Homo sapiens: one gene and its partners. The protein of the gene in region 1 purifies or fractionates together with the protein of each later gene. This does not show direct contact. Each region holds a gene or a part of one and is shown in the gene's direction. Other genes may lie near its edges.

Region 1 (3,500 bases):
AAAGTAAAACATCTGATTAATATTTTTATATTTATGATATGTTTTAATGATAATTTTTGATATATTGGTTCTAATAGAAGATCTTACTAGATTAACTTCACCTGTTTCTTTTCTCTCTCTCTCTCTCTCTCTCTCTCTCTCTTTCATGGTGTCTAGAAAATATAACAAATGTGGCTAACATCGTATTTATTTTGGACAGTGTTGTTCTAGGATAAAGCAGGAAAACAATATTCTGGGAGAAAGCTTAAAGATTTTGCTGGTCAAAACAATAAAATTGGCTTATTTTATTATACATAGAAATACCTCGTCTTTCTTATCCATTGTAACCAAAATTTGAGAAAACACACCACCTAACATCTATTTTTATTTCCTCAAAGCTGCTATTTAGTTTAGAGATTTGATGGTGAGGTAGTAATAATAGAGAAAAACTTATAATTAGAGAATGAGTCTTAACACCTCTCAAAGGCCAAAATAGAGTATGATTGTTACTTAGGAACATTTTAGAGACACTGTAGTTATCATTGTCCTGAAGTTACCAAACATAAACGAGTCACTAAAATTATTTTAAAATAGAGATTTTAGTAAATAGCAATTATCTTCAAATACTTAATATGTGTTTTCTTTTGCTAGAACTTTCTTTAGAAAGTTAAAAAAAAAAACCCATATCCAAAGTCCTGAGCAAATGTTAATAAAAGATTGCTGCATTCATAAGAATGAAAGATTTTTACCTGCAGATAGGAGGGTATTGTTTTGAATATTAGCAAAGGTGAAAATGTGTTTCTAACGTAACATTATGGGCTCTGAAGAATTTCTATACATGGAGACACTGTCTTTATAATTTGAACACATTCTTGAGAAGGCATCTGACTGGTAAACAAAGCACAATGGCATAGGTCCTGGAAACATTCCTTTCAGATATTTTCATAACTGAAGTACATTTTGCCATTCACAGTGAGTGTTAAGCTGAAAAAAATGTGGTTCTTTTCTAGCCATATAAAGTATGCTTACTATTATTTTCTCGAAGGATGCCAAAAAATGTAAAATGGATGTTGTGGATTCTTCGTGGGGAGGTTAGCTAGTTTGTATATAGAGCCTCAAGAAGAGTTGCCTCAGCTTGGTGCCATCTTGAGTCTGTCTTCCACTAGATGAGGCATAGCTTCCATTAGTGTCAGTGCGTGTGTGGAGGGTGAGGGGAAGAATGATCCCCATTAACTTTGTATATTGTTTCTGATGAGTCATGGAGCATATTCACTAATGGTTGGAGAATTATTGATTGCAAGGCAGAGGATTCAAGAAGAGCTATTGGCATATGGCATTAACTGTCTCTAGACATATTTTTTATTTTTAAATTTGAGGTAGAGAAATCGGTTTTTACGTAGTGTTTTTCATATTATAAAAAATAAACGTTTATATAAGCATTACAGATACATCCTTGAGGAAAAAAATAGTAAATACATGGTTATAGTTTTCTACATATTACCAGTTTTTTTCATAACAGATCCAGAACATCTCTTTCAGATAATCGTTCATGTTTTTAGAGAGGCATCTCATCATATGTGCCTGTGAAATCTGTAAAAATATGTGTAACACACATCTTGAAATATTTGTGTTAGGAGAATTAAGTCTTACACATTTGGTTCTTTTTCTACTGTTTTTGATTATGTTCTCTAGGTTACTATGATTATCTTTTGTTAAAACAGTTCAGGAAATATTAATCTCAAAACGAAATGTAGCCATATTGGACAGAGTAGAGAATTGCTTTTCCACAGAGACCAGTTATTCCAAAAAGGTGAAGATGTTTCTGAAATAATATCATGCTCATATGCTCCAAAAGAAAAACCATCATCTCTTTTGACATTCTTTTAGGAAACTGAGAGATGTATGTTTTATATACCAAAAGAGGTGAATAATAGTTGATAAAGGTATGCAAAATACATACTCCTGTGAAGTGTGAACATACAATTTGTATGTAACGCATGCATGAGCATATAACTTTCCCCAAGACAATGCCAATTTATTCAAATCACCTGAATGTTAAATAATATCATACTATTAAGAAGAATTGTGGTAAATATGAAATCTAAATACCAGTGATGATGTCCATGCTGATGTCAACTCCATTCCAGTCCTGCTTTAGCTAAATTCACAAAATGAAGAGATGTCTTTCTCCAAAGTAGTTTTCCAAAAATTTGTATTTGACACTGGATTTTTTCCTACGTTTTCACTTTTAAAAGTTTAGAAGCTATTAACTAAAAATGAACTTGTTTTAGAGAGCTAAGAAGATTCTAGATTTATGGGGACATTTAGTTCTATGAAATAAGCATTACGTTGCTGACTTGAAATATTATTCTATCATATAAAGTTGATTTATAAGTGAATACATATTGTGAAAAAATACCACAGTAGACTTAGTGAAATCTACCAAACTTAATCAAGATAGATATACGTTGTCCTCAAAAAAATAAGAATCTGGTAGGGAAAATAAGAGCTTCGAAAATAACTATAAAGTAGAAAGTGATATTTAATAAACAATGGCTGGGTAACATGGTATGAAAGTTCAGATAAGGGAAAGTCTTAAGATAACTCTGACTTGACCCACATACATGTAATAAAGGGAACAGTCCTTAAATGCATAAATAATGGGAACAAAAGGTATTCAGTATTTTTCAGCCTTAGCAAAATATTATTCTGTTAACGCAGTATTCTATTCAGCAATGGTTCCATATTTTCCATATGTTTATAGATAACATTCAGATATCGAATTTTCATATATGTTTTAATTCATTTATTTATTTCTTTTATCTAGGAGAAATATAATGGTTTCCAAATGTCCTATACTAGATTATTGATAGATTTTGTCATTAGTTTTACTATTGAATACCATGAAATATCAGCTGTTGCAGCCACTAAATAGTTACAAACTGTTGGTACTACAGTTTACTAGTCAATCCATGGTTATATGCTTGTGCTATGCTAAATATAAAGGATTCAAGATGAGGACTTAAGCAGTTCATATTTGTATTTAGAATATTATCAAAGATATTTTCTTAACTTGTCTCAGTATTAGAATTTACAGCCCATTTTCAGCTTATTGTATCCAGAAATTTCAATCATATCCAATAATTTATCAGCATTTGTTGATGACAGTAAAAGTGACACATTAGCATTTTATTTGTTTCTGTGTTGTTTGATTACAACAGTGACATTTTAGCACTCTTTGTGGACGGATAACTCTTCTAGTAGAAAGAAAGCAGGAGGGTGGTCAAGCTAAGTGACAGATACAAAGAGTTGGAGGACATAGGGCTTTCTGTGGGTAAGAAATGGATGAGAAAAGCTTTATGTCACTGACTAGGCTTGCAATTCAGTATTCCCCTATCAAAGGCCCCCTTACTGATGTTTCTGTTTACCAGATCTTGGTTTCAAGATGCCAGGTTCTGAAGAGATACACCACGAGTTCTTATAAACACTATATCTAAATTTGGTTTGAAAGTCTAATGTTT
Region 2 (4,413 bases), on another chromosome or scaffold:
GGCCCCCCTGAATCACATCACTTCCTAAAGCATGTTTTTACCTCCAAGATTGTTTTAAATCTATATTCTGTCTCTTTCTACTGCAATACCCTAGCTTAGTAATTCATTCACTTAGTTATTCAACTATTACCTCCTCCCTGAAGCATTATTCATCTAAATTCTTATAGCAGTTTCTGTGTCCTTATTTACTATATTTATAATCCTTAATCTTAAAATATAGTAATAGATGTTTATCAGGTATTTTATTTGATTCTTAAGTCTTAAATCTTCAGATTAATTTTCTCTTCCTTCCTCTATCCCTCATGGATTAGGGTAGAGGTTCTCAAAAGCTTTGGTCTCAAGACCAATGCTTGACATTATTACATATTGTTAAATATTGTTGAATACTGTTAACAGTGTTAAATATTGTTGAAAATCCCAAAGATCTTTTATTTATCTAGGTTATATTTATCTATGTTACTTGTTAATGTTTAAAACTAAGGAAAGTTTAAATTATATATTAATTTAAATATTAAAAATAATAAATTAATTACATGTTAACAGTTAAAATTCTTATAAAATAACAGTAAAAATTGTTACACTTTTTCTTCTTTTTGTACTTACAAAATAAGTACATTTTCCAAAACAGTACAATTTAGTGGGAAGAATGACATTGTTATGCATTTTTCCAAATGTTTTTAGTATTTTGCTTAAGACAGGTGGATTCTCATATCTCCTTCTGCATTTAGTCTGTTACAATATGTAGTTTTAGCTGAAGCATATATAAAGGCAATCTGACATGATATAAAATTAGAAAAGAGAGTAGTATTTTGATGATAATTACAGATCACTGTGGATATTATTCCTTGATACTACATGAATACTTGATAAGGAGTAGCTTGTTTCCTAAATGTTTTTGGTAATGTGGACTCTGAATCCTCAACAATGACCTTTTGTACTTTATTACGTTAAAATCCATTGCTCTATCTTACACTTTGAGTGACCATTTTACCAGTACATCATTCTATATTGTGCATTGGTCATTTGGAAAATATTGGTTCACCAAGTAATGCAGAGCTTCCAAATATTGACACATTGCATTAAATAATATCAAAAAGATCACCTCTTTACTTCCATTGATATCACATTGGTTGATAAAGGTTTTCCAAGCTTCTCATTTTTGTTTGAAATCTCCAATTTATCATTGGCAACAAATAGTTGTTTTCCCTGAAGTGACAGATTAACTTTATGTTTTACAAAATACTTTCATAAAACTATAGTCTGCATAGCCATAGATGTCTATGTGAAAATAGCATTCTATGGAAAAAAAAAAAAAGCAAAAACTCAACAGCTTGTTCAGCTCCTAAATCAAACAATCACAGAAGTGCTTTTCTTTGAATAGATTCTTCTGAAATAATCAGTTGAAAACACTTGTCCAGTGAAGGTGTTTATCCAGTGGTGCTCTCTAGTAACTTTTTGACCTCAGGATTCCGGTTTTCTTCAGTTGCCTACAACCTTTTAGTCCCTTTAAACATCAGAATTTCTCTTCCATCTGAAGATAGCATAAGTTAATACTTAGGGTATCAAACTTCATTTCCTTGTTTCATTAGCCAGTTAATTATTTCCAATAAATTTTAGTTCACTACAAACAAAATATGTATTCCTTCTTGAAAGTACAGTAGCATGATGTTTTAAAATTTTTCAGTTGAAATAAGGCCATTATTTTTCAAGTCTACACATGTGATTGGTTATGAGGGAGGAGTAAATCTGGAAAATTATGTGTGTTAAAAGCAGGAAGATCAAGAGAAACTTTAGTTTTATTTTAGATAATGCCTAAGGAAAAGAAAGTTTCAGAGATGATGGAATTAAGGGAAGAATCTTTGTAAGAGAAGGGTGAACATTCTAGGTAGAAGATGAGGATAGATTTTAACATGCTATTTTGTCTTATGAAAAGAGATAAATTAGGTAGGAAAGGTAAGCATCACCATCTTATAGAAGAAGAAACCTAGACAAAGTGAATTTTCCAATTGCCCAAGATTGTGTCTCTTATTTTTGGAGTTGGAAATAGAACCCAAGTCTCCTAATGCTCAGTCCGGAAAGCATTATTACTGTATTGTTTTTAATTCTCCCATATCTCAATCACTTATGATAAATGAAAGTTATAAGGAGAAACACTTTAAAATATTTAAATGCTTCAGATGTTTAAAAATATTTTTTAAGGTAGTGATGAGTTTTCAACAATATCTGATAAATTGAAAGCCTTAAGAGCCAGATTCTATTTTCCACAGAAAGAAAAAAACCTACATAGCCCCAGACCTTTATCTTCATGTCAGTTTAGATGATCTCTTAAATGTAACATAAACCCTTAAAATCTATATTTTTTGCAGGAAGAAATTTCATTTTATTGTTTTGTTAAAAGACTATTTTAAGAGTCATTGCTGTCTATTTTTTTGAACATAAGAATGTACTTTGGCTAGGAGATAAAGGTTTTGATTAATTACCAGGCAATTTTAAATGCACTTGTGGCAAATAGCTCTTCTTTTTCTGTTGAATAAAGACAAAACCAATTGAATCTATATTCTGTAAGTTAATAGCACTATAAATTTGAGAAACTATTCAATTTTCATAAATTGATTAAAAATTCCTAGTGTGATTCTCCTGCCTCGCTTGAACCCGGGAGGCAGAGGTTGCAGTGAGCCAAGATCACACCACTGCACTCCAGCCTGGGCAACAGAGCGAGACTTCGTCTCAGAAAAGAAAAAGAAAGAAAAGAAAAGAAAAATTACTAGTGAGAGAAAATTCTTCTAATACACGAATGCTGTGAAATGTAATAATGCACTTCTTAAATTCTTAGTGCAAAAAAATTATGGAGTGTAAAGTAAGATTTCAATTATAATGTTGGTGCTTTCCCCCAATAATTAAATTCTTTTTTTGTTTTCAGTTAATTGACAAGTACCAGTTGAAAATAAAAGTACAAGACATGGATGGTCAGTATTTTGGTCTACAGACAACTTCAACTTGTATCATTAACATTGATGATGTAAATGACCACTTGCCAACATTTACTCGTACTTCTGTAAGTGTATGATATTAATTAAAGAAAAATGTATAGACCAGTTTTAATTGTTTAATATGCACATCTCTGGCCTGGCGCAGTGGCTCACGCCTGTAATCTCAGCACTTTGGGAGGCCGAGGCGGGCGGATCACCTGAGGTCAGGAGTTTGAGAACAGCCTGGCCAACATGGTGAAATCCCGTCTCTACAGAAAATACAAAAATTAGCCGGGCATGGTGACAGGCACCTGTAATCCCATCTACTCGGGAAGCTGAGGCAGGAGAATCGCCTGAACGTGGAAGGCAGAGGTTGCAGTGAAGGAAAAGAAAAAAATGCACATCCCCATCCACCCCTCATGATTTCAAATGAAGTGCCCCAGTGACATTAAAAGTTGTATAGTGCTAGGGTTTCAAATCATGTAAACATAGTACTTTGGAAATTAGAAGAGTAGGATTTACTTCACATCGTGTTCAATTTTTGTGAGAGTTACTAACGAAATTTTTTGTTTGCTTTTATTATTTTAGTATGTGACATCAGTGGAAGAAAATACAGTTGATGTGGAAATCTTACGAGTTACTGTTGAGGATAAGGACTTAGTGAATACTGCTAACTGGAGAGCTAATTATACCATTTTAAAGGGCAATGAAAATGGCAATTTTAAAATTGTAACAGATGCCAAAACCAATGAAGGAGTTCTTTGTGTAGTTAAGGTAAGAATAAATTAGAACATTATTTGTAGTTTATAATATCATAGAATAGCATGCTAGAATTTAATGGAAAGAAAGGAATTCTGATAAATGTAGAATAAAATAGGTATATAAGTAAATGCAAATGCTCTGTTCTTCATATACAATGGAAAGAATATATTAGTTTTTGATAATCTTTTGTTTAGGTATTTTTTTTTTTAAAAAGTCCATATAATACAATATCTATTTTGTAACCAATATCTTTAAATGGTTCAAAAACTAGCACAGCTTTGATGCCCCTGGGACAGTGCCAGACTTTTCCTAGCCCAGTTTTTCTGTGTTTGGGTCAAGGAGCCTTTATTTACTTACTGAATTTCCCAAATCAAGAGTTACTCTTGGTCAGCCCCATGGAGAGGTTATTCATAGGTTTGTTCATCATATTCAGTATATATTACATCCTTAGCATCCAGGTTCAGAATGAAAATCCTCAGTGATTCAACAATGCAAACACTTCTAAAACTTCTTTCTAATACTATTTCAGCAGCCAGAGTTAGTGCATAAAGCAATCTGAGCTCCTTTAGCCTTGGACAAATTTATAGACTTATTTCTGCTGCATCTTTAACCAGAACATGGTTTTACAGTGGGTCTATGCCGTTTTCTTTTTGTATATATTCACAAGGACCATGGATTAAAA
Region 3 (4,413 bases), on another chromosome or scaffold:
CATATATATTAGCACACACACATACACCTCCTTCCCCAGGCAGGGAGACCCAGGCCGAGATCAGCCGGAATCAGAGCCTATGCCTTTTCTGCTGTCCTTGTGTCCCCACTTTTTCTTACCATTCAGAAAACACAGGAAGGCTTGTTCACCTTGGACCATCAGGCTGGCATTCAAGATAAAGGCAATACCCAGCGTAGTAGCCATTTCATCTTCAAGTTTCTGATTTGCAACTCAGAACCCCTTTCCTATAGAAAAACATATTGGAAATGATGGTTAGGATTCCAGCTCAGCACACAAAATTCTGTTTAGCATAAAATGTGGCTGAATTCAGAACTCCATGGATTGCCAGCACTTAGAACACAACCTGACACATAGTAAGTGATCAGAAGATGTTTGTTGACTGAAGAATAACCTAACTGGTAGTTCTGATGGTAATAACTTTCCAGCAAACTCACTAGTAGATTCTGAATCACTTTGTAACAGTACTGTTTGTTGGGTGTGTGGAGGGGGTGCTGGTGGGGGGATTATTCCACTGTGTGATGAGAGAGGAACTCAGAGTCCCCAGGAACATTTCTCCCCCCTGCATCACCCCCAACCTCAAATCCACCCTTCTCCACCCAGAGCTGAGCTACAGTCACTCAGCTTGCAGGTGAAGGGAAAGGGGCAGCAATAGGAATGTGCTTTTCTGAACATGCCTTTTCCCTAGACACAGTCTTTGTGGCCATTTCCAAGTGGGGCAAAGAAAGAAGGGAAGTTGGAATCTCAGGAAACAGCTCTTATTCCTTGAGGCCCTGAGAGTTTACCCTGAGCTCTGACGAGAAGTTTTTCTAGGTACAGGATGTTCCTAAGTGAGGGCTTTGTCATTAGGACAGCATCAAGCCTCTATCCATCTGTCAACTTTTGTTAAATCAGAGTTTTCATCACCGAAGTCAGAGTTTTCAATCCAGATGTGTCACCTGGGGAAATTATTTTCCTTTTTTATAAGTTTTCTATAATGTGTCTTCCATTGGAAACATCTTCCATTTTCTGTTTTCATCATCATTATTTGGTGCCTGTCCATTGGACCCCAGCCCCTGTTCAGAATTTGCTTCCAGTGCCCTTGCTTGTCCCCTGAGGCTGGGGAAACAGAGAACCAGAAACCAAGCAGCAGGGGAATTCTCAGGTTGTTGGTGACTTTATTTTTCTATCTACCTGCAGAGGACCACAAAGAGTCAGAGCCATTGCCACAGCTGGAGGAAGAGACAGAAGAGGCCCTCGCCAGCAGTGAGCCTGCCTCCCCAAAGGGGGGCCCTCAAGATAAAGCAGGAGGGACATGAGGGTGACAAGCAGGGGCGGCCATGGCAGTGGCACCAGGCCCAGGCCTCAGCCAGATGAGAGAGGCTTGTTGGATTCTGGGAACCTGGGCAGGAAGAAGCCTGGGGGGGCTCAGCCAGCCTGGGGGGCCATGGGAGGAGGGTAGCTAGGAAAGAGAGCCTGAGGCCTGGAGAGGGAAGTGGAAGAGATTTTATTTTTAGAATGAGAAGATTAGAAAAACAGCAGGCCAGAAAGTAAAGTTCGGCATCAGAAAGGACTTCCTGACTGTGAAGGGTGTGCACGAATTAGGTTTGTTTGTTTTCCTTCCCTGGAGATCTTTACTGGGCAGAGTGAAGACAGCCAGGCTAGGGAGCGACAGCCTGTGGGGCGTTCAGAGCGACCTCTAGAGGTCAGCCCGGGACACACCACCCCTCTCTTCTCAGACTTGTACTCGGCACCCACCTCCTGCCAGGGCCGCTGCTACGAAGCCTTTGACAAGCACCACCAATGTCACTGCAATGCCCGCTGCCAAGAGTTTGGGAACTGCTGCAAGGATTTTGAGAGCCTGTGTAGTGACCACGGTTAGTCTTCTGCTCCCTTAGCTAAGCTGCAGAGACAGAAGGACTTTAGAGCAGGTTCTCAACATGTGGTCCCTGGACCAGCAGCTTCAGCAATGTCTGAGAACTTGTTAGAAACACAAACTCTGGGGCTTCACTCCGGGCCTACTTAATTAGAAACTCTAGGGATGGGACTCACTGTCCTGTACTACCAGGGCCTCCAGGTGGTTCTGATGCATGCTCAAGCGTGAGACCCCTTCTAGGGGGAAGGGGCGGGGGACATTCTGTGGGCAATGCCGTGTGGTGATTTTACACGTCCTTTAGGCTCTGGGCCCCTGTCCACCACTAGGGTGTCCAACTGTGGCCCCCCTCCCTCCTTGCTGGCTTCTTGAAGGTGCCCAGGAGGGGAGGTACACAGATAATTTCCTGCCCGCCCCCCTTTCCCTCTGGCTCTGAGGCCACCCCTCTTCCAATTCCTCCCAGAGGTCTCCCACAGCAGTGATGCCATAACAAAAGAGGAGATTCAGAGCATCTCTGAGAAGATCTACAGGGCAGACACCAACAAAGCCCAGAAGGAAGACATCGTTCTCAATAGCCAAAACTGCATCTCCCCGTCAGAGACCAGAAACCAAGTGGATCGCTGCCCAAAGCCGTGAGTTCCCACAATTCCTCTTTCTACCCCCTAAATCTTGCCCCTATCCTTGCTTCTTTCGATGTCTCGACTTTTTATCCTCAAGTCAGGCACGATCAAAGGGAGAGCAGAAAAAAAATAGTTCTCCAGAGACAAAGCCATCTTGAGGGACTGTGGATATCCAGTTGGGAGGGTTTCTGTGATTGGCCAGGCTGAGGATAGAACAGCTCTTCCAAAACATGAGGTGGAAGAAAAGTGACCTGATGTGTGACTTTCAAGAGTACCCGAAGTGCCCCCTCGGCTCCTGAACCCAGCCCTCGCCTGTCTGCCCCTGGCCTGTCTAGAAGTCTCTGGAGGGGTCGCTGCCCTGTGTTTGGGGCTCTCAGTGGGGCTCCCCTCTGCCTCCCCCAGACTCTTCACTTATGTCAATGAGAAGCTGTTCTCCAAGCCCACCTATGCAGCCTTCATCAACCTCCTCAACAACTACCAGCGGGCAACAGGCCATGGGGAGCACTTCAGTGCCCAGGAGCTGGCCGAGCAGGACGCCTTCCTCAGAGAGATCATGAAGACAGCAGTCATGAAGGAGCTCTACAGCTTCCTCCATCACCAGAGTGAGTGAGCACCCCCAGGCCCCAGAGCGCATGAGTCTGTCTGAGCGAAGCCAGGTGGGCGGGGGAGGGGAAGGTTAGGAGGGCAGGTGAGGAGGCGGTGGGGACTCTGTGGAGGTCAGTGTACATCTGGGAGGGATGAGGGATGAGGCCAGGGGGAAGCCAAGGAGAGGTTAGGAACCCAACCAGGAGCTGGCACATCCTCTGGCTGGCTGGCTTGGATATCACCCCACCTTTGACTTCATGTTAACTGCCTCATGCACGCCCACCCTCTGCTACAGTCTCAGGGTTCTCTGCCAGGTGTGAGCCTCCCCTCACATCCCACCCCCACCCAGAGCACGTCTCAGCCACCTCCGCGATCCTGGAGTCAGCACCATGTTTCAGACAGGTAGAGTCGCTGACTCTACTCCCTCCTCCCGCAATAAAGTCCAGGAATCGGGTTGGCTGAGTCCACCTTTTGGCTGGGGAAACAACATCAGAGAATCAACAAAGGTTCAGAGCGGGAAGTCCTATCGGGAAGAGTTGTGGTTGGAAAGCCTCCAGGTAGAGACACATTTGAGTCAGACCAAAAAAGATTTTGGCCGCAGGACTTCTTGGCATGGAGTTGTGTTTGTTACTGTCCTGCAGATTCCTTTCCCAACTCCAGGCAGCTGGGCTTTGTCTCAGGGGTGGCTCTGTCCGGGTCTTCCCTCGTTGTCCCTGAGAGTGCCTTGGCTCAGAGCTGCTGCCTCCCTTAAGAGTTGGTGACACTGTTTTTAGGTAAAGTGACAGCGACACAAGAGTGACTCTATGAAGAAGTTGCAATCCTGTGCTGCCCCCTGGCGTTCTCTTCGTAGTAAATACACAAGAGAATCTTGGAGGTCTAGACTGAGCAAGGGCTTTTCAAATGAGAGAAACGGAGGCCAGACAGGCTAGACTTATCTGAGGCCACAAATGAGTTGGAAGCGGAGCTGGGGCTGGAACTCAGGGTTCCGATGCCAAGGCCAGGCTGTCCCGTTACTAACTCTCTCCTCACCTCTCTCCTTGTCCAAATCCCACTTATCCTTAAAGTTCTATGATAATTCATATCCCACCGCATTTGTGAAGGCTGCACCTGCCCCAGCTCACTCTGGCTTTCGGCACCTCTGCAGAGTTTGGAGTGTGGTCCACAATAGCCTTGGGCCAGAGAGACTTGGTTTAAATCTTGGCTCTGCCACTTGCTAGTGACTTGACCCTGGGCAATTTATTTGACCTCTCTGGGACTTCCCTTTGAAATGGGGTTTTTGAGGATGACTGCTTATAAAGCACCCAGTAGAAAGCCTGGCACTCAGTCCTTGCTCAGTAA
Region 4 (4,413 bases), on another chromosome or scaffold:
ACTCAGGAGGCTGAGGTGAGAGGATGGAGTGAGCCCAGGAAGTTGGCTGCAGTGAGCCTTTTTTTTTTTCTTTTTTCTGCAGTGAGCCTTGTTCTTGCCACTGCACTCCAGCCTAGGCAACAGAGTGAGACCTTGTCTCAAAAAAAAAAAAAAAAAAAAAAAAGGAACACAGCTAATTCAAACCTTTGGTGGCATTCTTATTCTTAGGAAAGAGATACAAAAGTGTTACTGAGCTCATTCCATTAAAAAGGTTTTTTTCCTCCACTTGTGATATAGCCTGGCATCATTTTCAGATTCAGCCCTCTCCTTGGATTTTCTGAATCTTCAGTACCATTTAGTCATAGATAATTTTTGTAAACCTATGAAGCATTACACAATCCTTAGTCAACAACAAAAAATATGGTTTTGTTCAGCCTTCTGTGCTATGGCGAAAAGATTTTCTACAACAGACAAATATAAAATTTGCCCAGTATTCTGGTTAATTAGATTTAAATAGTATTTTCACTGAAACAGCCTTAAGCGTATTGCAGTGTATCTACTGGCACAATCACTGCCTTAAGACAAAACGGTATATAAAAGCACCCACCCCTCCACCACCAGAAGGAACCACACCCAGCAGTTCTAGAGTTGGCTAAGGTCTTAGTATACTTACTCTTGCCTGTGATGATGTTTTCTCTGGCTTTGTCAGTTAGAAACCTTAAAGACTGCCAGCAAGAACAAGGCATGAAAATGGTATGCCTCTGTTTTGGGTGTGTTGCTCTTGCCCTTTGGAGAATATGATATTTTATAAGGAGACTGGAAAACTCAGGTCATAACTTTACCCTGAGTCATACATGAATCTACTCAGCAAAGTGTTTCTGTGACTGGTTGGTTACTTTGTATTCAGAACTCTTTGAATGGTAAGGATAAACACCAAGGCTGACTCTACTCAGTGGTTCTTAACCTATGGTAATATTGCCTCTTCCTGCCCCTGGAGCATTTAGCAATGACTGGAGACGTTTTTTGGGTGTTAGAACCTGTTGTGGGGAGTGTTACTGGTATCTAGTGGGTAGAGGCCAGGGATGCTGCTCAATAGCCTGTAGTGCGTAGGATAGCCCCCCACAACAGTTGTGCAGCTCCAATGTCAATATGTCAGTAGTGCTGAGGTTGAGAAACCCTAGTCTACACTGTCATTTTTTTTTTTTTTTTTTGATACAGAGTCTCGCTCTGTCACCCAGGCTGGAGTGCAATGGCGCGATCTCAGCTCACTGCAGCCTCCATCTCCCAAGTTCAAGTGATTCTCCTGCTTCAGCCTCCCGAGTAGCTGGGACTGCAGTCATGCACCACCACGCCTGGCCAATTTTTTTGAATTTTCAGTAGAGTCAGGGTTCCACTATATCGGTCAGGCTGGTCTCAAACTCTTGGCTGCAAATGATCCATCCGCCTTGGCCTCCCAAAGTGGTGGGATTACAGGCGTGAGCCATTGCACCCGGCCCACTTCTCAGGAATCCTAAACTCTTGGGAGGCTGAGGTGGGAGAATCACTTGAACCTGGGAGGTGGAGGTTGCAGTGAGCAGGAATGACGCCACTGCTCACCAGCCTGGGCGACAGAGCAAGAATCTGTCTCAAAAAAAAAAAAATGCTTTCTAATTATACAAAGATTTTCAACATTTTCTACATACTTGAACTGATGAGTGATAGAATATTATCATGAGCTATTTACAGCAATGAAGTAGTCCCCATTATCTGAGGGGCATATATTGTAAGGCCCCCAGTGGATGCCTGAAACTGCTGATAGCACTGAGCCCTGTATACACTACGTTGATCAGTGAGAAGGCTACTAAATAACTAATGGGCATGGTAGCATATACAGTGTGGATACTCTGGAAAAGGGAATGATTCATGTCCCAGGCAGGATAGCACAAGATTTCATCATGGTACTAAGAACTGCGTTGCAATCTTAAGACTTACGAATTGTTTATTTCTGGAATTTTAAACATATGTTGTAAATTCACATAAATACATATGAATGATAGATGTAACAGTGGTCCAGCTGTAGCTTTGTGTCTGTGCAAAAACATCACGTTATCCATATTCATGTAAGTAATGTAATACAGCATTAACTGTTGTTGCAGTATGCAGAATTAGACCTTGGAAAATAATTGCTTCTCTAAAGGGACAAGGCATGTAAAGTTGCCACTTACAGATATTTTTAGTACCCTCCCCGGAGACTAGATCTCCAGAGTTTAAGATTCCTGACAAGTGGACCGGGCACGGTGGCTCATGCCTGTAATCCCAGCACTTTGAGAGTCTGAGGTGGATAGATCACTTGATCGCACGGTGTGCGATCCACCCCCCTCGGCCTCCCAAAGTGCTGGGATTACATGCATGAGCCACCACACCCAGTTAGCACTTGACCCATTTTAGTGATGAAACTGAAAACTAGACATGCCCAGGATCACACAGGTTGTTAGTGGCAGGGCTGGAACAGGAACTTGTGTTTTGAGTCCTAAATTTGTATATTTCCACAGGTTACTTCTGAGAGTAAGCAGGTGAATCTGTCCCTTAGGCAGTTGTACATTTAGACTAAATGCAAGTTAGAGATCTGTGAAGTTGTATCATCCAAATAGAGGGTAGGCCGGGCGCGGTGGCTCACGCCTGTAATCCCAGTACTTGGGGAGGCTGAGGCGGGTGGATCACCTGAGGTCAGGAGTTCGAGACCAGCCTGGCCAAGGTGGTGAAACGCCACCTCTACTAAAAATACAAAAATTAGGCGTGGTGGTGGGTACCTGTAATCCCAGCTACTTAGGAGGCTGAGGCAGGAGAATTGCTTGAACCCAGGAGGCAGAGGTTGCAGTGAGATGATACTGGGAGGCTGAGGTGGGAGGATTGCCTGAGCCCGGTAGGTTGAGGCTGCAGTGAACCATGATTGCACCACCGCACCTCTAGCCTGTGCAACAGAGTGAGACCCAGTCTTAAAAAAGGTGTAATATATAAGCAGCTCCATTTAACTTGCATTATTGGTGTGTACAGCTCAAAATAATTCTTCCCTTACATAAGCCCAAACCCAAGGATCACTGTCAGTGAACAACATCTTTTTTTTTTTTTGAGACAGGGTCTTGCTCTGTTGTCCTGATTGTAGTGCAGTGGTTGACTTACTGCAACCTCTGCCTCCCAGGTTCAAGTGATACCAAGTAGCTGGGATTACAGGCGCGTTACCACCAAGCCTGGTTAATTTTCATATTTTTAGTAGAGATGGGGTTTCGCCGTGTTGCCCAGGCTGGTCTCGAACTCCTGATCTCAGGTGATCTGCCTGCCTCAACCTCCCAAAAGTGCTAGGATTATAGGCGAGACCTCCCATGCCTGGCCAACAAGATCTTTTTTAATCTGGTGGGTGTTGATAATCATGCTTATATTACTGGTGTGAAGAGAAATGCAGAATCACCCCAGCTCTTCCAACTAAACAGAGCCTGGTTCCCTTCCTTTATTCTTGGGTACCGTGCTACAGGGAGAGGAAGAGATGAGTAAGGACTTTTCCCCCATAGCTGTCCTCAGTAGTCTTCAGCTTCTCTTGAAGTGCAGTTCACTGTACACAACTGTATACATTCTTCTTTTTTTTTTTTTTTTTTGAGATGGAGTCTCACTCTGTCACCCAGGCTGGAGTGCAATGGCTTAATCTCAGCTCACCGCAACCTCCGCCTCCCGGGGTTCAAGCGATTCTCCTGCCTCAGCCTCCCGAGTAGCTGGGATTACAGGCATGTGCCACCACGCCCAGCTAATTTTGTATTTTTAGTAGAGACAGAGTTTCTCCATGTTGGTCAGGGTGGTCTTGAACTCCTGACTTCAGGTGATCCACCCACCTTGGCCTTCCAGTGTTGGGATTGACAGGCATGAGCCCCCATGCCCAGTCTCAACTGTATACATTCTTATCATTGGATTACCCCATCTTGTAACCACGTAACTTTATCTTCCATGTCTACTGCTCTGACAATGCCACTTGGATCCTTTGGGTTGTAGCCTTCAACCACATTATGGTACATGTCATTCATTCATTTTACAATAGTTTATTGGCCGGGTGCGGTGGCTCACGCCTGTAATCCCAGCACTTTGGGAGGCTGAGGCAGGTGGATCACAGGGTTAGGAGTTCGAGACCAGCCTGGCCAATATGGTGAAACCTTCTATCTACTAAAAATACAAAAATTAGCCGGGCATGGAGGTGCATGCCTGTGGTCCCAGCTGCTCGGGAGTCGCTTGAACCCGGGAGGCGGAGGTTGCGCTGAGCCAAGATCGCGCCACTGCACTCCAGCCTGGGCAACAGAGCGAGACTCCGTCTCAAAAAAAAAAAACAAAAAAACAATAGCTTATTGTATGTGCTGTGTGTCATTACATTGATATTGCTCATTACATTCACATTGCTCAGTACGCTTTTTTTTA
Region 5 (4,413 bases), about 110 Mb from region 1:
GTGTATGCACATCCACACACACACACACACACACACACACACACACACACACACAAATGTACGTATACATATACATGAACTTACCAGGAAAGACTAGAGAGAGTATAGGAGAAGCGATATTCAAAGAAATAATGGCTGAGAATTTTCGAGAGTTGATGAAAGACCTATATTCTCAGAGTAAAGAACCATCCCCCCAGAATTCCAAGCAGTGTCCCCCTTCTTCCACTTGTACAAGTTGCTGTGAAACTACTGGACACGAAGCAAAGACAAACTCCTACAGGCAACCTCGGGGAACAGATTACCTACTGAGGATTAGCAGGTAGACTTGACAGCTACTTCCCCAATAACACAACAGTTGAGGCCAGCGTTTAGTGAAATGCTCAGAGAAAATGCAGTCATGTGTCACTTAAAATGATGAGGATACATTCTGTAATATGTGTATTAGGCAGTTTTGTCATTGTTTGAACATCGTGGAGTGTACTTACACAAACTTTGATGGTACAGCCTACTGCATGCCTAGGCTATTTAGTGTAGCCTGTTGCTCTGACTACTGTCAGATACACAGTATATTGTTGGCCAAAGCATTAAGAGGCTCATGACTGTGACTTTAACCCAGAGTTCTCCAGCTAGTCAGACTATCATTCAAGAATGAGCATGAAATTATTTTGCACACAGAAATTGAGTTTTCCAGTCACGTTCTGTCACTTAAAGAACCCATAAGTTGTACTTTAGAAAGAAGGAAATGAAGTCAGAAGAAAGGAATGAATAATAAGAAGCAATGTTGAGCAATCACATTGTTGAGCATATTGAGAAGCAATTGTTGAGCATATGAAAAAATAAGAGTGATAATGTAGGATTTCAGTTTGCATAGCACTTTCACATTTATTCAGCTTTTTAATCTTTATAATAATCATCTGAGGTGCTGGTTCTTAAACTTGAATGCCTATTGGAATTACCTGGGGAGTTTTAAACATTACTAAAGCCAATTAAAGATTCTGCTTTAATTGGTTTGAGGTACAGCCTGGTCATTGGTTTTGTTTGTTCGTTTGTTTGTTTTTGAGACAGTCTTGCTTTGTCGCCCAGGCTGGAGTACAGTGGCACAATCTTGGCTCACTGCAACCTCCGCCTCATGGGTTCAAGCAATTCTCCTGCCTCAGCCTCCCAAGTAGCTGGGACTACAGGCGCACGCCACCATGCCCTGCTAATTTTTGTGGTTTTTTTAGCAGAGACTGGGTGTCACCATATTGGCCAGGCTGGTCTTGAACTCCTGATATCGTGATCCACCCACTTTGGCCTCCCAAAGTTCTGGGATTACAAGCATGAGCCATGGTGCCCTCTGGTCATTGGGATTTTTACATTCTTCCCAGATAGTTCAATGCACAGCAGTGTTTAAGAACTTAGGGGCTTGGCCAAGTAATACTGAACCTTAGAGAGGTTGTGATTTGCTCAGGATCAGGTAGGTGTGTGGCAAAATCAGGTCCAGTCTCTTAAATGTTAAATTCTTTATTCTGAATGATACTCTTTTAAAAGCTTGTAAAATTGACAGTCGTGTCTTTACTTAAAAGGAAATAAGACCATGAAGAAATGAGTTAAACACTGAGTTTTGTTAAATTTGGGGAATATACTTTTAGAATTTTCATTTTTAAAGGGAGATTGTGAAATCTGTTTTTAGGGATCTGTGGTTACCTAAATTGAAGGCTGGCAGGCTACCATGTGGCAAGAAGTGGAGGTCTTGATTTGGTCCATTTCCTCTTTGTGTGTTTAAATATATTTTTATGCCTTGCTAAAAATGTTAGATAGATATTTTCTAGCTTACTTATTGGGAAATAATATTAAATATTAAATTAATATTATTAAATAGCAAATATATTAGACTCTATTAAGAAATCATGCTTCCAGAAAAAACATTTCACTAATGATTTTTTCAAAGAATCTACAATAATTATCAGAATATTTGTTTTGAGTTTTTTATTTTATTCAATGTCCTGTATCAAGTTTATTTTACTTTTGCTTTTTAGCAGTTTAAGGAAAGTAGAGTATACTGAGTTTTTATTTTGCTGTTGAAAAAAATTTTTTCTCATTTTTGATGATGGAATCTGACATTACACTTGAATTAATTATAAAAACTTTTCTTCCCTCCCTTCCTGGTTTTAGACCAACAGCAGCAGAACTATTAAGGCACAAATTTTTCCAGAAAGCAAAGGTAGGAAATTCCAGCTTTTGATTATGTGTGTTCATAGGATGCTCCTCAATTACTCAGATTATGTTCAGTGCTTAGAAGTTGGATGATTATGTTTGGAAAAATGATGGTAGATAAAATAATTGCAGAAAGCACTATGTATACAGTCTTTGATAATTAAGATAATTGCTTCAGAATTTAGTAAATCCGTTTTTAAATATTAGGTTAAACTGATCATAGGAACAATGATTATTAAATTTTGCCATTATAAATATAATTTGTGAAAAATACCGAACTCTGGTTTTAAGGTTTACTACTGAATTTGTAAACATCTCATTTCCCAAATATATCAGATAGTAGGATGTTACTGTAGTTGGAAATGTAGGACCATGATCTCAAAGAACATACAGTACAGCAAACTCTTCATAGACAGTGGTTCATACAGTGTACTACATCTTAATTTTCTGCCTCAATTTATGAAACTGTGGTAGTAACATACTAAAGGAGCTTCAGAGTGAAAGAATGAAAGTTTTTCTCACACTTCATTACAGAACAGTTACTATATCACATTTTGATTATGGTGAACTTTTTTGTGGGTTTTTTTTGGTACCTTAAAAACTTGTAAGAACAAAATACTTACTTTTCCTCTCCAGAATAAAGAATTTCTTCAAGAAAAAACATTGCAGAGAGCACCAACCATTTCTGAAAGAGCAAAAAAGGTAAATCAGAATTTAACTCAGTTTTCCTGAAGAATTTACTTTATTTTTGCATTTTGAAAACATGTTAAGTAATACATTGTTAATAGTATATGAGAATTACTGGTTTTCTGTCGATCCTTTCTAAAGCATTCTTTGATACATTCATTCAGCAAATATCTTTGGTCTACCATATGCCTTGGTATTACTCTGCTATCTTTTAGGATGAAAAGGGATGCTAGACAGTAATTGGTAAATTAATTCTAAACTCTGTTTGATAACTGTTTCCAGCTACCAGAGTGAGTTGTGATTTTACATGACATTTATAGCTTTGGGTATAAGTCACAGTACCCTCTTTGGAACTCCAAATTTTCTACTGCCTTTACAGAAAGACTGAAAGAACTTTATTACGCATATGTAATTTCTAAGAAGTTTGGTCATGATGTGAGCATACAGAATGCTTTAATATCTCAGTTTGGGCAGAATATATTAATCTTCCTGTCCATGATACTTTTATGAACCTCTGTGAGAGCAGGGAGAAGAAAATCCTCCCTTTTCCTCACTCTTACTTCTCTGCTCAAGCAGACTTATCCAATGTGAAGGAAAGGAGGCAGTTTGGGCTTCTGCTGATGATAGACTTGAAGAAGGTAAAGGTCTTACACCTTGTATAATATAGTGGTAGGCCTGTCCAAGAAGTTAGAAGCATTATGTCTAGCAGTGGCTTATTCTCTTCCGTAGATCTCACTGCTTGGGAATTTTGATACATTCCAAGAATTTAACACAATGAAGAACCAGAAATGTATATTAAATACTTGGAAATGATATTCTTAATAAGCACTGGTAAAACAGTTAACTTGTCTCTATTTTAGAGATATATCTTTTTCAGTGGCTATAATGCATCGTTACATATCAGAATCACTTGGGGACTTAAAAAAAAAAAGAAAGAAACATGGACAATGTCATCCCAAACCAATTAAAGTCATGACTCTAGTGGATGAGACCTGGACAATTATTCTCATGGATAGCTACTAGGTTAAAAACTCACTTGGCTCATTCCTTCACTTTATGTCAAGTCTACTCAATTGGCCTTTCCTCAGAATAATATTCTCTGATTACTAAAACAGTACCCTCCCATGACTCTCTATCCCTTTACCCTACTTATCACCATCTGACATTTTACAGTGTTTCTTTACCATTAGAATAACAGCTTAATGAGAACAGGGACTTTTTTTCATTGCTGTATCTTCAGTGTGCCTAGAATAGTTCCTGACACACAGGATATTCTTAAATAATATGTATATATTTTTATGCTTATTAATAATATGTATAAAATTTCTATGCTTATTATTGTTTATAATAAATCCCATCTGAGATACGTGTTGATTTATATCTGAAATCTGATTAATTTAAGAAGAGTAAGTTGGGTGCAGTGGCTCATGCCTGTAATCCCAGCACTTTGGGAAGCCAAGGCAGGTGGATCACTTGAGGCCAGGAGTTCAAGACCAGCCTGGCCAACATGGTGAAACCTCGTCTCTACTA
Region 6 (3,634 bases), about 34 Mb from region 1:
TATCCCACAACTGGGGAAAGGAGTGCAATTGCCAGATTACACAAAAAGTATGAAAACTTTTCCAAGAATTGAAGAGGGGTAACAATTGGCAGAAAATTAAAATCATGTCCAATTCAACCAAACTTGAAGGAATTTGAAAATGCTCTTTGTAGTCGGGACTCTAGTGCTGAGACTTAGTCATTCCTAAGCTTATATTATTGGGCATAGAATCTAAGAGGAATATATCAGCCTCAAATTTATTATGTAAATGTATATAAAATAAGATGCAAAACCATATTTTGCATCTGTCTCAGAAATCTTTGGTCTATTTTTTACATGAGTACAAAGATTTGCTTCACGAAATTTTTCATATCAGAAACAAAACTTAAAATAATCCAAACATCCAATCCCAAGTTAAAAAAAAGAAAAAGGAACAAAGGGCAGGATTGTCACCATGAACATGGCTCTGTCTTTTTTTTTTTTTTTTTTTTTGAGAAGGAGTTTTGCTCTTATTGCCCAGGCTGGAATACAATGGTGCCATCTCGGCTCACCACAACCTCTGCCTCCTGGGTTCAAGCGATTCTCCTGCCTCAGCCTCCTGAGTAGCTAGGATTACAGGCATGCGCCACCATACCTGGCTAATTTTGCATTTTTAGTAGAGAAGGGGTTTCTCCATGTTGGTCAGGTTGGTCTCAAACTCCTGACCTTAGGTGATCCACCTGCCTCAGCCTCCCAAAGTTCTGGGATTACAGACATGAGCCACCGTGCCCGGCCTCTGTAGCTATTTTTTAAAAAATTAAACTCTGAACAAGGAAGAGAGAGAAGAGGTCAAGTGTTCAGCCTTTAGGAGTAAGGGATGTTGATACCATCAAGCCTCAGTTAAGAATATCAGTTATAAGGCACTAGTTTTCCAGTGTTGGTCTACAGATGGGTGCCAGGTCATAATATTGTTTCACCACTCTGTGTAGTAAAAATGAAAAAAAAATAAGGATAATGAAGTTTTTTATATCTAACATTTATCCATCTAAAGGACAATCCTTTACTCTGATATTGTGTTTCTGGCTCTTTCTTTTTTTTTTAAATCAAAATTTCATTCCAGGCTGGGCATGGTGGCTCATGCCTGTAATCCCAGCACTTTGGGAAGCTGAGATGGGTGGATTACTTGAAACAAGGAGTTCAACATGGTGAAACCTGTCTCTACTAAAAATACAAAAATTAGGAGTCTGGGCAACAGAGTAAGACTATGTCTCAAAAAAAGAAAAAAAAAAATTAGGTGGGCATGGTGGCTTGGGCGTGTAGTCCCAGCTACTTGGGAGGCTGAGGCAGGAGAATTGCTTGAACCTGAGAGGTGGATGTTGCAATGAGCAGAGATCGCACCACTGCACTCCAGACTGGGTGACAGAGCGAGACTCAGTCTCAGAAAAAAAAAATAGTTTCTTTTGTGAAACAATGATGGTGGTAAATGATAGTTATTGTTAATATTTTAAATATCAACTGGGCTAGATAACAATTTGAGAATCTTTTTTCGTAATACTTTTTAAATTGATTTGTGGAATCTATGATCTGGGAGCCATTGGTGTAAATCAAGTCAAGTATCTAACATCTTCTTTTATGTTACATGATGATAGGCACTTTTCTGTGACCTTTTCCAGGAACATGAGAACATCAATGGTGTACCGCCTCATTTGGGACATCCCTTCCACTGGGGTGGGCATGAGCGTTCTTCTACCACCAAGCCTCCATTCAAGCCCCATGGATCTAGAGATCATCATCATCCCCACAAGCCACACGAACATGGACCCCCACCTCCTCCAGATGAAAGAGATCACTCACATGGACCCCCACTTCCACAAGGCCCTCCTCCACTATTGCCCATGTCCTGCTCAAGTTGTCAACATGCCACTTTTGGCACAAATGGGGCCCAAAGACATTCTCATAATAATAATTCCAGTGACCTCCATCCCCATAAGCATCATTCCCATGAACAGCATCCCCACGGACACCATCCCCATGCACACCATCCTCATGAACATGATACCCATAGACAGCATCCCCATGGACACCACCCCCATGGACACCATCCTCATGGACACCACCCCCATGGACACCATCCCCATGGACACCATCCCCACTGCCATGATTTCCAAGACTATGGACCTTGTGACCCACCACCCCATAACCAAGGTCACTGTTGCCATGGCCACGGCCCACCACCTGGGCACTTAAGAAGGCGAGGCCCAGGTAAAGGACCCCGTCCCTTCCATTGCAGACAAATTGGATCTGTGTACCGACTCCCTCCTCTAAGAAAAGGTGAGGTGCTGCCACTTCCTGAGGCCAATTTTCCCAGCTTCCCATTGCCGCACCACAAACATCCTCTAAAGCCAGACAATCAGCCCTTTCCTCAATCAGTCTCTGAATCATGTCCAGGGAAGTTCAAGAGTGGGTTTCCACAAGTTTCCATGTTTTTTACACATACATTTCCAAAATAAAATGTGATTCCTTTGAAGAGGAAAATGAATAATACATTGAATTAGAAACATAAATAAAATGACCAGTAATTGTGAAAATTACAGTTCTTTTCAACCTACTTTCATACTGAAGATGCAGCAAAATGTGAATGGGAAAAGAGATGGCCTGAGAAGAGAGATCAAATGGAAAGGAGAGGAAAGAACTCAGTGCTGCCTATTAGTAGTTAATTCTGTCACTCACCACTACATCACTTGAGACAAATCTATGCCACTCAGAATCTCCTTCTTTCCTGGACTTAACTCTAATTCTAGAGTCTCTGTTACTGCTTGGGCTATACCTGGGCATACTAATAAAGTATGGTATTGAAACTATTGTTATCATTTATTTCATTTTATTTTCTAAGTTCCAGGGCACATGTGCAGGGTGTGCAGGTTTGTTATATAGGTAAAAGCATGCCATGGTGCTTTGCTGCACCTATCAACCCATCACCTAGGTATTAAGCCCAGCATGCTCTAGTTCTTTTTCCGAATGCTCTCCTGCTTCCCACCCTCCCCCTATTTATTATTATTAAAGTGACCTAAATTCTCTCCTCGTGATTATTACTAGGCATCTAAATTTTCTTTTGGAAAAATAAGTTCTAAATTCAGTATTGAAGCAAACAAACCTCTGGCTATAAATTGCAAAGAAGCTTGCTAACATGAATCATGACCATAAATTCAGGTGCATAAGAAATGTCACTTTATGCTCAGAACAAATTAATTTCTATTTGAGGATGCCATCCTACTGGCTTAGTGGAAATTTAACCCCAGTCCTTCTTGGAGTCCCCTTTCCCTGCCCTGCTACTTTCCACACAAAGTTGGGCCACAGTTCTAGGATCTCACACCATGCCAAGCTGTCCAGGTGGTAGGAAGCAGGATAGTGACTATCCCTCAGCCAGGGTGACTGTTGGACCAATGATCATCATCATGAGTGATAGCCATCCTGCTCAGGGATAGTCACAACCCTGTTCACATCACTCTTTCAGTCTGATTTATCTGCTACTTCTGTAGAAAACTGGGGGTGCAGGAATGTCTGTACACTAGCCATGGACATGACTGCCAAGGTATGGCATATGGCTGCTCTCTCCCTGGGATCTTGCTGTCTTCCCAGCTGCATGCCCAGAAAGCAGGGCAGAGATCTCCTCTGC
Region 7 (4,413 bases), on another chromosome or scaffold:
AAAAAGAACATTGTATAGAACACAGAGTTGTATTAAAAATTCTGTCATATTGAAATGCATTGCTCACTGCTTTGTTGGTACTGTTTAAGAGAAATGTGTCAGATTTAGTAACATGTTCACTAAGGTAAGCATGAACTGTTTTATATCACTATAGATTAATTTTCAGTGCTAAAAAAGCAGAAACGCTGAACATAGACTTCTGTTTGTATCTTAAATTGCAATGTATTGTTTTGCATTATTTTAGCAACTATACTTATTAGCTCTCTTAATAGAATACACAAAAGATGTATTATGGAAAGGCCTGCAATCTAAGCCAGCAATATATCAAAAGGAAAATTGTTCACAGGGTTTTCATGGCAAGTCAGAATTTTTAAGCAAGTTGCAAGTAACTTCTATATTTTTAAGTAAGTTGCAAATATCTATTCATATTTAATTTAGCAAAATATAACTTGTTTTTAAATTTCTTTTGTTTCTGAAGTCTGTGTCAGCATTTGCTCCAATTTGCAACCCTGTACTCTGTCCCTGGGGCAAAAAAGCCTTTAGTGGATATTTGGGAACAGATCAAAGTAAATGGAAGGTAGGTACTGAATGGCTGTCTTAATACTCATTCTTAAGTTTCAAGTTTGTTTAAAAGGTTGGACATATATTATATTCCTACCCTGCTCATGTTAGGGCTCTAGAGCTGAGACAAATTAGCAAAAGATATATATATATCGATATATATATCAATATATGAGATATATATTATTATATATATTATTTTATATATATTATTATATATATTATTTTATATATATATATATATAAATCAACAAAAAACCCTACTTTCTAATTGTATTGAATCATGGCAGATATTCTGGGGCTATATTTTTTTTCTACTAATGGTTAATTTATATTTTTATTTCTAAATTAACATCACTTCTAAATTAACCAAAAAATACCACATATTACAGGTTGAGCATCCCTAATCTAAAAATACCATATATTACAGGTTGAGCATCCCTAATCTAAAAATTCAAAATGCTACAATGGGTATTTCCTTGGAGCATTACCTTTAAGCGTCATGTGGGTACTCAAAACGTTTCAGATTTTGGAGCATTTCTGATTTTGGATTTTTGGATTAGGGATGTTCAACCTGTGTTACTAAATTTAGACTTGCCTCTTATTAACTATGTGCTCAGTTGTGTAATAGAAGCAAAGAAGCCTGGCTTTTTAAATTACTTTGTTTTCAAAATTTAGCATTTCAGATCTCGATTTTAAATTCCAGACACGAGTCTTTAAAAATAGATATTCTGTTATGTACATTTATGTGAATATTCCCACAGCAAGATTGCTTTTTCAAGCATGCAAACAGGTGCTTTCAAGTGGAAATAAAAATGACCCTTTTTCCTGAGAGCCATGTTACTCTTGTGCAGAAATGGGCCATTTACAAACTCTGCCAAGAGTTTGAATACTTTGCAAATGAACTCATCATGATGTGTATTGTTAACAAGCAGAAAATACTTGAATGGGTAAAAAATGCAACTTCTTTGTCTTAAAGTATTTAAAGTATAGTTCTGTGTTCAGGGTTCATTCCTACATGAACCCCTATTTTATGTAAGGATGATTATTGAAATTCCAACACATTTTATTTAAGGATGATTACTGAAATTCTAACTAATTAAAGGGTTCATCCTTTAGTAACTAGATTACAGTTTTGTTTAGGCTTGAATTTTTACTATGTTTGAAGAATGCTAGAAATGATTTAGGATTAGGTCCTTTGAGAACTGACATTGCATGTACATCAGTGTTTTGAGTCTTCATCTGGTGCAAAGTCTATGCTAGGTTCTGAGCTGTTTTGTCACGAAAATGGTGACCCTTTCACATCCACCAGGGGCTTATGGTCTAATAGAAGAATTGGGTAAAAGACCAACTAATTGGAGGGTGAAGGTGAGAGGTAGAGGTACAGGTAACCTAAAAAGGAATCTAGATATGTACTTTTCTCCAAGTGACAGTAGATTTTACTGTCTTAATTATGTTGTATTTAGGGTATTATTTAATTTACGATTGAAATCAGGAAACCATGTAGAATTATGAAATCATAGAATTTAGAACTAACTAGTCAGACTTTATAGGTCCTCTCCCACTCTAAGATGAAAGGAAATAGAACCTTCAAAAGCAGGATACTTAGAGGACAAATCTTTTCGTGGTTGTTTGTCTTGGTCAATGTATAAAGTTGTGGTTAATGAATATATATGAATAAGAATATTTCGAGGTGGATGATAAAACATAAAATTGTAACTAGTGGCAGCTCCTCAGAGAATAAATTTGAGATGATGTTGATATGATTCAGATGATTCACACCAGGTGTTTCTGAAAGCTTATGTAGATAGCAGAGGTTTGGTGCTGTTCAACAGCAAAAAAGAAGGCTGAATGTGTTTATGTCTGGAATTACAGCCATAAAGAAGAGACATAAAAAAAAAGATTATCTGAAATAGAGAATATTTGGAAAAAGATCATGGAGTTAGAAGAAGCTTCTAGTTTCCAATTTGTGGAAGGAGTTACAAAGGAAAAAAAATCATGTTCTTGCTGGAGCCAAGAGGAGATTAAGAATATTAAAGGTTTAGAAGGAAAAAGGCCATTTTCTTAAGAATCCCTGAGATATGGGATTCTTGCCACTAGTCTAGGACTGCTTGAAAGTAGGGAAGAGACTATTATTAGAAAATAGAATTCCGAAGACCTTGTAAATAAAAGCCTGGCAAGTCAGATTTTGAACCAACTTAAAAGCATATTTCTGATTTAATCAGCCTAAGAGCTTAAATAACTTTAAATTTCTGTTTGGTACTAGTATAGTATATCCTGAAGAGTATCTTTGAATTTATTTTTCAATGTTACTTCTCTTTTTACAGGCTTATGATGCTACCCACCTTGTGAAATCCTATCCAGGATCTCAGCTGGACATACTAATTGATCAAGGGAAAGATGACCAGTTTCTTTTAGATGGACAGTTACTCCCTGATAACTTCATAGCTGCCTGTACAGAAAAGAAAATCCCCGTTGTTTTTCGATTGCAAGAGGCAAGTATTAGGAAACTTTAGCTTGATCTAGATAATGTAACTATGAAAAATTAGGATTCTGTGATATTTTCTTAACTTTATTTTAGAATATAAAATGCTACTTCTAGTAAGTTTTTAATTATATTCAGACACTTGAAGTGAAAACCTGCCTATAAAATTAATTATATCTAACACTAAATTTGATAGAAATAGGAAAGCTTTTGGCAGTGAAAAATATTGTTTTCCATCAAACCAGTAAATAACAAGATTTTTAATGCTTGAATGATGATTAATCTTCAGCATTAGCAGATACTTCTTTCTTTACACATGGACCTTTGCTGCAGTAGAATAAAAAGGACAAACTTCTACCTAAATTACTCCTTATTTTATGTATATATTTTAGCCTCAGAAGTTAAGTATTATTTATCACACATGTGCTTTATATTATTTGACTTTCATATTAATCTATTCATTGTGCTACTTGATATTTCTAGTTGTTTAAGAATAATTACTGAATCCCAATGGGCTTGCAAGTTTTTTTTAACTAAAATATTTTTGACCGTCCACTACTCACCTAACTCTATATATGCTACCATAGTCCTAATTAAGGAAGTTCTGCTTTTATTTTTAAGAAAAATTCATAAGCTTCAGAATATAATTTAAAATATTTTAGAGTGAAAAATGAGCACTGAAAATTATACATGGTCATGATTTTTAAATAAATTTTTATCCATGTTTAAGGATAATGTGTCAGGCACATTGATCTAAAATGTAATTACGATGGTAAATGTTCAAATCTAGATCAGTGTGTAATGTGGTACATTAGTTTGTAAAATGCTTTCACAGCATTAACTCATTGTTAATTCTTATACCGCCAAATGAGATATCATTTCTTTCCTATCCATCTGTTTTACAAATGAGGAGACAGGCTCAGAGAAGTAACCTACTTATCTAAGGCCACATAGCTAGTAAGTGGTGGAACCAGAACTGGAACTAAGGCCATTTAACTGCAAATACTGACCTCCTGTCATTTATCAAGCCATTTTCAGACGGCATGATATTCTCCTGAGGAGCAAAGGAATGGAATTAGAGCTAGCACAAGGAGAAATTGTGCATAGCTTGCTGCCTACGTAACTTATGCAGAAGATCTGAGCAGTCTTCCTGTTTTTAGGGATATTTTGCACATGTGAACTATATAGTGAGAAAATGTCAAAAACTAATACATGATATACTGTTTGTCTCTTAGTGTCCATCCTTGAGTAATAGAATTTTGTTTTAGATTTATTTGAACATTTACCATCACAATTAAATTTTAGGTCAACAACCAGCCTTGAGAAATCCAAATACCAATTTGACTATAAATATAGTAATACGTTTA

The links.
Region 2: the proteins of MBNL1 (region 1) and DSC2 purify together in Homo sapiens (affinity purification with mass spectrometry; one large-scale study listed by BioGRID and IntAct). This does not show direct contact.
Region 3: the proteins of MBNL1 (region 1) and ENDOU purify together in Homo sapiens (affinity purification with mass spectrometry; one large-scale study listed by BioGRID and IntAct). This does not show direct contact.
Region 4: the proteins of MBNL1 (region 1) and ATL3 purify together in Homo sapiens (affinity purification with mass spectrometry; one large-scale study listed by BioGRID and IntAct). This does not show direct contact.
Region 5: the proteins of MBNL1 (region 1) and OXSR1 purify together in Homo sapiens (affinity purification with mass spectrometry; one large-scale study listed by BioGRID and IntAct). This does not show direct contact.
Region 6: the proteins of MBNL1 (region 1) and HRG purify together in Homo sapiens (affinity purification with mass spectrometry; one large-scale study listed by BioGRID and IntAct). This does not show direct contact.
Region 7: the proteins of MBNL1 (region 1) and ESD purify together in Homo sapiens (affinity purification with mass spectrometry; one large-scale study listed by BioGRID and IntAct). This does not show direct contact.

The regions. Positions count from the first base shown.
Region 1 is NC_000003.12:152,271,929-152,275,428, forward strand, and holds part of MBNL1 (muscleblind-like protein 1), read left to right. Parts: intron 1-3,500. UniProt on the Homo sapiens protein: Mediates pre-mRNA alternative splicing regulation. Acts either as activator or repressor of splicing on specific pre-mRNA targets. Inhibits cardiac troponin-T (TNNT2) pre-mRNA exon inclusion but induces insulin receptor (IR) pre-mRNA exon inclusion in muscle.
Region 2 is NC_000018.10:31,081,568-31,085,980, reverse strand, and holds part of DSC2 (desmocollin-2 isoform Dsc2a preproprotein), read left to right. Parts: intron 1-2,920; coding exon 2,921-3,055; intron 3,056-3,557; coding exon 3,558-3,743; intron 3,744-4,413. UniProt on the Homo sapiens protein: A component of desmosome cell-cell junctions which are required for positive regulation of cellular adhesion.
Region 3 is NC_000012.12:47,714,979-47,719,391, reverse strand, and holds part of ENDOU (uridylate-specific endoribonuclease isoform 1 precursor), read left to right. Parts: intron 1-119; exon of another isoform or gene 120-245; intron 246-1,197; coding exon 1,198-1,263; intron 1,264-1,736; coding exon 1,737-1,874; intron 1,875-2,333; coding exon 2,334-2,502; intron 2,503-2,892; coding exon 2,893-3,092; intron 3,093-4,413. UniProt on the Homo sapiens protein: Endoribonuclease that cleaves single-stranded RNAs at 5' of uridylates and releases a product with a 2',3'-cyclic phosphate at the 3'-end. The UU and GU sites are more efficiently cleaved than CU and AU sites. Targets mRNAs to regulate their expression.
Region 4 is NC_000011.10:63,664,541-63,668,953, reverse strand, and holds part of ATL3 (atlastin-3), read left to right. Parts: intron 1-4,413. UniProt on the Homo sapiens protein: Atlastin-3 (ATL3) is a membrane-anchored GTPase that mediates the GTP-dependent fusion of endoplasmic reticulum (ER) membranes, maintaining the continuous ER network. It facilitates the formation of three-way junctions where ER tubules intersect.
Region 5 is NC_000003.12:38,227,533-38,231,945, forward strand, and holds part of OXSR1 (serine/threonine-protein kinase OSR1), read left to right. Parts: intron 1-2,154; coding exon 2,155-2,203; intron 2,204-2,832; coding exon 2,833-2,898; intron 2,899-4,413. UniProt on the Homo sapiens protein: Effector serine/threonine-protein kinase component of the WNK-SPAK/OSR1 kinase cascade, which is involved in various processes, such as ion transport, response to hypertonic stress and blood pressure.
Region 6 is NC_000003.12:186,675,416-186,679,049, forward strand, and holds the end of HRG (histidine-rich glycoprotein precursor), read left to right. Parts: intron 1-1,607; coding exon of another isoform or gene 1,608-1,631; coding exon 1,632-2,468; 3' UTR 2,469-2,819; downstream 2,820-3,634. UniProt on the Homo sapiens protein: Plasma glycoprotein that binds a number of ligands such as heme, heparin, heparan sulfate, thrombospondin, plasminogen, and divalent metal ions. Binds heparin and heparin/glycosaminoglycans in a zinc-dependent manner.
Region 7 is NC_000013.11:46,776,099-46,780,511, reverse strand, and holds part of ESD (S-formylglutathione hydrolase), read left to right. Parts: intron 1-478; coding exon 479-577; intron 578-2,888; coding exon 2,889-3,056; intron 3,057-4,413.